Linked DNA regions of Homo sapiens. The protein of the gene in region 2 purifies or fractionates together with the protein of the main gene of each other region. This does not show direct contact. Each region holds a gene or a part of one and is shown on either strand. Other genes may lie near its edges.

What was found.
Region 1: the proteins of EIF2AK4 (region 2) and EIF2S1 purify together in Homo sapiens (affinity purification with western blotting; one study listed by BioGRID). This does not show direct contact.

Annotation. Positions count from the first base shown.
Region 1 is NC_000014.9:67,366,782-67,370,605, forward strand, and holds part of EIF2S1 (eukaryotic translation initiation factor 2 subunit 1), read left to right. Parts: intron 1-3,824. UniProt on the Homo sapiens protein: Member of the eIF2 complex that functions in the early steps of protein synthesis by forming a ternary complex with GTP and initiator tRNA. This complex binds to a 40S ribosomal subunit, followed by mRNA binding to form a 43S pre-initiation complex (43S PIC).
Region 2 is NC_000015.10:40,027,850-40,031,673, forward strand, and holds part of EIF2AK4 (eIF-2-alpha kinase GCN2), read left to right. Parts: intron 1-1,556; coding exon 1,557-1,615; intron 1,616-2,509; coding exon 2,510-2,607; intron 2,608-3,824. UniProt on the Homo sapiens protein: Metabolic-stress sensing protein kinase that phosphorylates the alpha subunit of eukaryotic translation initiation factor 2 (EIF2S1/eIF-2-alpha) in response to low amino acid availability.

The DNA.
Region 1 (3,824 bases), on a different chromosome or scaffold from region 2:
AGCAGCCAAAAGCAGGCCAAAATTGAAAATTTGAAGGTGAGTCGACACTTATAAGAAAGGGTATGTTTTCTGTTTTACACCTTTTTTTTTGACCTAAGTACATGCTGAAGACAGCTTCAAGCCAGGCAGCTAAGGTTCTAGCAGAAAATTTATGGTCTTATTGGCTTTAGAACTGGAGGCGAGAGTTGTAGACAACCATAGTAGATGGAAACTGGTGGTGATAGTGGTGAGGGTTAGAGAAAGGAGGCGGCAGGCACAAAGGGAGATCCCCTAAGTCTATATAAATTCTTCCCAAATCTCTGGTTTGTCCCTGAACTACTGAAACACAGGGTGGACTCCAGGTAGCCTAATAGGGGAAAAATCTGAACAGATTTCAGTTGCTTACCATCTGGGGAGACAGAGCTTATAGTTTTGAGTTCAGATTCTGACTGCCTGCTAAAACAAAAAATCTATATTCTCTTTTTTTGGGGGATGGAGTCTCACTCTGTCGCCAGGCTGGAGTGCAGTGGCACGATCTTGGCTCACTGCAACCTCCGACTCCCTGGTTCAAGCAATTCTCCTGTCTCAGCCTCCAGAGTAGCTGGGATTACAGGCACACACCACCATGCCCAGCTAATTTTTGTATTTTTGGTAGAGACAGGGTTTCACCATGTTGGCCAGAATGGTCTTGATCTCCTGACCTTGTGATCCACCCGCCTTGGCCTCCCAAAGTGCTGGGATTACAGGCGTGAGCCACCACGCCCCACCCCATCCAGGTCACTTTGTGCTAAGTGTTCTACACTTGGTCAGCATTCTCATAAATACGGTGCATGGAATGGAACACGGTGGGCACGTTGCGTGAACTCACAAATTCAAGACCAGCTGGGGCAACATGGCAAAACCTCATCTCTACAAAAAATACAAAAATTAGCTGGGCGTGGTGGTGCACCCTGTAGTCCCAGCTTCTCGGGCGGCTGAGGTAGGGGGATGGTTTGAGCCCAGGAGGCGGAGGCTGCAGTGAGCCAAGATTGCACCGCTGCACTCCAACCTGGGTGATAGAACCAGACCTTGTCTCAAAAAAAAAAAAGAGAGAGGTGAAGGAAGTTCTTTAAGCTGAAGAGATGTGATGACCTGACATGGAAAATATATAGGTAAATGTAAAAGACTATTTTTGCCCTTCTTAGTTTCTTTAAAAATATATTTAACTATTTGTCTCATTTGTGCCTGTGGGATTGTAATCTATAGAGGTGACTGAGTGATGACACAGTCCAATGCCCTTGAAAGAAAACTTTTACTACTTATATTGCCTGAGAGAAGGGGGCTTGATGTGCCATGCAGGGCCACATGGGGAAGCACCAGTTTTAGTCAGGAGTCACAAGGAACTAGGGGAAAAAGTAGGTCAGAGCTTTTGTTGGAGTTTCTGCAGGAAAAGCAAGGCAGAGCAGCGTAAACGGCTTGCAGTTGGCTAGTTTGAATGCTTTTGGCGGGCCTTGGGGCATAAAGACTGCCCTGCTTGTCTAATACCTGGCCCTTGACTTACAGCAGGGAGAATTTTGGCTTGGTGTATGAGTTTATGGGCTCCAGATTGGCTGCTCTGCATAAGAAAGGCATGCTACCAAGCAAGCCCTTTGCTGACTCCTCCCCACCTGACGGAGGGGCAGTCTCTCCACAAATGTCAGAGCCTCAAGAATACAGAAAATAAGAAAATATTTAGTTACTACTAATAATATTAATAATAAAATATATAGTTAATACAGTTGGCTCTGTGATTAATGGATGCCAAGTAGTTAAATATAGAAGCTAAGAAAACAGAATACTGTTTAAAGCAGGCTTAGTACACTTGACAACTTAATCACAAAGGCCAGGAGGTGTGGGGTAAATAGATCTATATGATTCTTAACGATTCTTACATTTTATGTGCAGTAGTAAAATTAAAAGGTTAAGGATGTATATTGTAAATTCTAGAACAACCATTAAATAAGCCAGTTGCAGTGGTCTGTGCTTGTAGTCACAGCTGTTCGGGAGGCTGAGGTGGGAGAGTCACTTGAGGTCAGTAGTTCAAGACCAGCCTGGGCAACATAGTGAAACTATCTCTAGAAATAAGTAAGTAAAATACAAAATACACTATTGTAAAAGCCAAAGATATATTAAAATGGAATTCTAGAAAACATTAACCTAAAAGAAAACTCAAAAGAAAAAAACAAAAACCAGAAAGAACAAATAGAAAACAAATACCTAAAATGTAGGTATTCAATTATTCAGTTATTGATACAACTGAATTCATTTATATCAGTAATTAAATGTAAATCAAGTAAATATTCCAGCTAAAAGGCAGAGATTGTTAGGATGAATTAAAAAGCAAGACTCGACGATAATCCTGTCTACAAGAGATATACTTGGTTGAAAATAAATGGATATAAAAAGATATGCTATGCAGACAATACCTTAAGGAGACAGTGTCTATTAATATTAGATAAAGTAGATTTAAAGACATAGTATTTTCAGATTTAAACAGGGACATTTTGTAATGATAAAGGGTCAATTTGTTAGAAGGAAAACAACAGTCATCACTGTGTATGTGCCTAATAATAGAGTTCAAAATATAAAGCAGAAATTGAATTCAAGAGAGAAATAGACAAATCTATAATCATAGTTGGAAGTTTGAACAAGCTCTGAACAATTGGAGAAACAATTAGATCAATGAAGACCTTGACTTGTTTGATACCTAGAACACTGCACCCAGAAAAGGCAAAATACACATTATTTTCAAGTGTGCATGACATTCACCAAGATAGACAATAAGGTGAGCTATAATATTAATACAACTCTAAATAAATTTCTAAGGGTTGGAATACAAATATGTTCTCTGATCACACTGGAAGTAATTTTGAAATCAGTGTCATATCTTGGGAGGGAAGAGTTTGCAGTATTAAATAAGCCCTTCCAAATAATTCATATATTAAAGCCTTAAGGGAAAATTTATAGCTTTAATTACTTATATTAGAAAAGAATAAAGATCTAAAACAGTTATCTAGGCTTTTGTTTTAGAAGATAAAAGAAAGGAAAGGTAAACTCAAAGTTGCTGAGACCAGCTCTGTTGGGGAGACCCTAACCCAGAGGCGCTAGAGGAATTAAAGACACACACACACAAATATAGGGGTGTGAAGTGGGAAATCAGGGGTCTCACAGCCTTCAGAGCTGAGAGCCCCGAACAGAGATTTACCCACATATTTATTAACAGCAAACCAGTCATTAGCATTGTTTCTATAGATACTAAATTAACTAAAAGTATCCCTTATGGGAAATGAAGGGATGGGCCGAATTAATTGCAGCAGGAACACGTCCTTAAGACACAGATCACTCATGCTTTTGTTTGTGGCTTAAGAATGCCTTTAAGCAGTTTTCTGCCCTGGGCGGGCCAGGTGTTCCTTGCCCTCATTCCTGTAAACCCACAACCTTCCAGCTTGGGCGTTAGGACCATTATGGACATGTCGCAGTGCTGCAGAGATTTTGTTTATGGCCAGTCTTGGGGCCAGTTTATGGCTAGATTTTAGGGGGCTTTCTCCCAACACAAAGTAAGTAGAAGAAAAGAAATAATAAGGATAAGATAATCGGTGAAAATAGAGTACCAGAAAATCAGAGAACAGTATCAAAGTTAAAAACTTGTTTTTTGTTTTTTTAAAAAAGAGCAAAATTGATAAACCCCTAGTTAGGCTGATGAAGAAAAGGAAATAACACAAATTACCAATCTGGAATGAGAATGGGGCTATCACTGCAGATGCTACAGACATTAAAAGGCTAATAAGGGAATATCATTACCAATTTTATGCCAATCATCTCAACAA
Region 2 (3,824 bases):
ACTGCACTCCAGCCTGGGTGACAGAGCGAGACTCTGTCTCAAAAAAAAAAACAAAAAGAACAACAACAACAACGAATATATAATCCCATTTTGTTTTAAACAAAATATACAACCTATACATAAAAAAATGTCTAGAAGAACGTACCAAATTTTTAATTGTAGTTTTGGTTAGTGGGATTACAAGGGATCTTAAATTACTTTGTTAAGCTTTTCTATATATTTGCAACTCCTTTTTTTTTTTTTGAGATAGAGTCTCACTTTTGCCGAGGCTGAAGTGCAGTGGTGTATACATGACTCACTATAGCCTTAACCTCCCAGGCTCAGGTGATCCTTCCTTCTTGGCCTCCTGAGTAGCTGGGACCGTAGTCATGTACCACCTTGTCCAGCTAATTTTTTTAAATTATTTGTAGAGACAGGATCTCCCTATGTTGCCCAGGCTGGTCTCCAACTCCTGGACTCAAGCAACTCTCCCGCCTCAAGAAATTCTTATATGTATGCTCATTATCAGAAAATACCACACGGTAATTTTTCTGGCTTACATCAGCAATTCTCAACCAACAATGATTTTGCTTCCCAGGGCACATCTGGCAATGTATGGAGACATTTTTGGTTGTCACAACTGGGGAGTTTTACTGGTATCTAGGAGAGGCCAGGGATACTGTGAAAACATCCTAAAGGGTACAGGACTACTACCCCCCAACAGAGAATTTTCTGGCCTAAAATTTCAGTAGTACCAAGATTGGGAAATCCTGGCTTACAGAAAACAAACCTTGCTCTGTTCTTCTCATGCCCCCACCCCTTCTTATTTGCACCTAGCCTTAATAAATTCACCATTAGGTGTTTCTGAGGGAACATAATGTTCTGGAAATCACCAGTATTGGAATTATAGATCTAAATCAAAGACAGAGGTTTAGAAGAGAAACCAAGAAATAGCCAAGTAGTGAGTATGGGGGAACATTACCAAGACACTTAAAAGGCTACATGGGATTTAGTTTTAGCAGGGAAAGGTTCAAAGTTTTTCCTCCAGCAAATGATTATTTCCCTGTTTTCCCAAGATAGAGTGCTGTTGTCTCTCTCAAAGGCTATAAATTAATTCACAGCATTTGAAAGAACATCCATTCACGGCTTTTTAAAGAATATCTTTATTTACCAAATGTTCTCCTGTGGGTGGTTGCCAAGGCTACTGCCATAATGAAGGTGGGGCTGCTGTTATTCATGTTTCCTTGTATTATGAGGGGGGCGGAAAGAACACCCATTATATTTCATTGAAATCAGCTTATTGTGTGGATCCAGGATTTCACGCCCAGCTGAATAAATCAGAATGTTTTCCTTAGGCATTTGTTAACTTAAAAAGACATCCTTTATAATTTTTACTTGCTCTTGACCAAAGCATAACTAAATGCAAATTTTTTGTTTTTGTTTTTCCACCAATAACCAAGAAGATGTTTTTATATTTAATGGAAAAGTGGCTCACTATACATGTAGTTCACTGTAAGTTATGTGTTGCTTGTGCCTTATTGACTGTTCTTTAATTGTTTTTGTTTGCTTGTTTTTAGAGAAGCTTCCGATAATCTTGCAGTGCAAAATCTGAAGGGGTCATTTTCTAATGCTTCAGGTATAATTACTAATTATAATCTGAACATAATGATGCTTATATGTTTGCTCTAAGCACTTATTACTGTAGCTAACTGCTTGTGACACTGGAAATCTATTTTTAAAATAACATATACGCAATAAATTGTACCACATGGGATGCATCCCTATGCTTTGAAATCCACATCCTAGAAAAGGATAAAACAACTGGAATTTAGCTGACTCTTCTACTCTATCTCTTATTTTTACAAGTGATTTAATCTTCCTTTTACTCAATTTATTGTACAAGTGAAATGTGTATAATTTTCCTGGAGATTTTCCTCATACAGAGGATTGAAGGAAGTATTTTGAAATCCCTTGAAGAAGGACACTATACACATTTTGTTTTCGTGAAAGCCAAGAGGGCACAGTGGTGATAGTTATGCCTTTGCTTTCATCACCTCTAGCAACCTTACTTCTTTTTTAAAGAAGTGTTCCAATTAAGGCCATGAGAAGACATATTTGGCTTTTAACAGAATTGAGTCTTTCCCATTCTCTTCTGTTAGCACTAACTTTGTGTTGCCATCAGATTTCCAATTCTTGCAGGAATTTAAAGAAGTATGCAGGTTTGGTGATATTCAGCTTGATTTTCTTAGGCCCCTGAGGTTTTGATGACTCCTGTTGCCTCCCTGCCCCTTCCACCACCCCCCAACCCCTGCCTGAGGAGAGAAGCATCAAAACTGCTGGGTGTTGGGGTTCTGGGCTCCTCACCTATCCGGTGCAGATGGTTGTAGGGATAGAAAACACAGCCCAGTCGTGATCTAGCCCTTAGAATCACGACAGGATGTCTACTAATAAACTCTGCCATCTCTCTGTAGTATGTTGTAGAAAGTGGGACCAGATAAGGCCATAAATTCTGAAACTCTCTTGGTCTCAGGTTTGTTTGAAATCCATGGAGCAACAGTGGTTCCCATTGTGAGTGTGCTAGCCCCGGAGAAGCTGTCAGCCAGCACTAGGAGGCGCTATGAAACTCAGGTACACTGGGTCAGGGTTTCTTTGGCTTTCTAATATGAGTTACAGAAGAGAAAAACAACAACAGGAAAGGAAAATAAGATAAACATGGAATTTCTTGGAAATATTTTTTCCAAGAAAAAAATTTTTCTTCCAACTTGCCTAACTGGGTGGCTTCTGGCTCCAGGATTCCCATCTGTCCTTCAGAGAGGGGCCATTGTGCACTGTGGGCACCTCAAGGCAGCTGTTGTCAGAGTGACTGCATCTAAATGAAAACTATCTAATCTGGCTCTAAAGGTAGTTGAGGTTTGTTTGTGCTCTAAATAGCAAAGTAGAAGAGGCCGATGACAAGACTTAAGGCAGGCTTCTCATTCCATACATGGTTTCGGCATTTGCTATATGCCTACTGGTGTGCTAAGGGCTGTGTAAAATGTAGAAAACATTAACATGGCCCCAGTCCTCAAAAGAGTTTATAACTTAGAAGCATATGCATTATATAGAGAATAATAAAAGCAAATAAATATAGGCCAGGTGCGGTGGCTTATGCCTGTAATCCCAGCACTTTGGGAGGCCGAGGAGGGCGGATCACTTGAGGTCAGGAGTTCGAGACCACCCTGGCCAACATGGTGAAACCCTGTCTCTACTAAAAATACAAAAATTAGCCAAGCGTGGTGGCAAACGCCTGTAATCCCAGCCACTCGGGAGGCTGAGACAGGAGAATTGCTTGAACTGGGGAGGCAGAGATTGCAGTGAGCCAAGATCATGGCACTACACTACAGCCTGGGCAACAGAGCAAGACTTTGTCTCAAAATAAAATAACTACAGTAGAACACTGAGTTAAATTTATAGAATATGAATGTTAGAGTATGCTGTGGACATATGCAAAAGAGTGAGTGTTAAAAGAGAGCAGTCAATTTTAGAAATGTAATCAGACTGAAATACAAAAATCAGGTACTTTATTTTTGTAAGCTCTTCTAGCTGTTTCTCAGGATTTGGGTGGAAACCTATTTTTCCCGTCTTCCTACTGCCTTCATCACCTACCAAGTTTCAGTTCTCACACCATGTCCTCATTGCTGCCACCTCTCCCTTTTTCCCAATTTAGCTTCATACTATCATCTCTCTGTCTCTGTGTGCACTGTTTCACTGCGCTACGCCTTTATAAGGAATCATTTCAAAATTATGAAGAGATAATTGACAAGGATTATTAAACAAATGGTCAAGATAAGTTATAAAAACCTCAT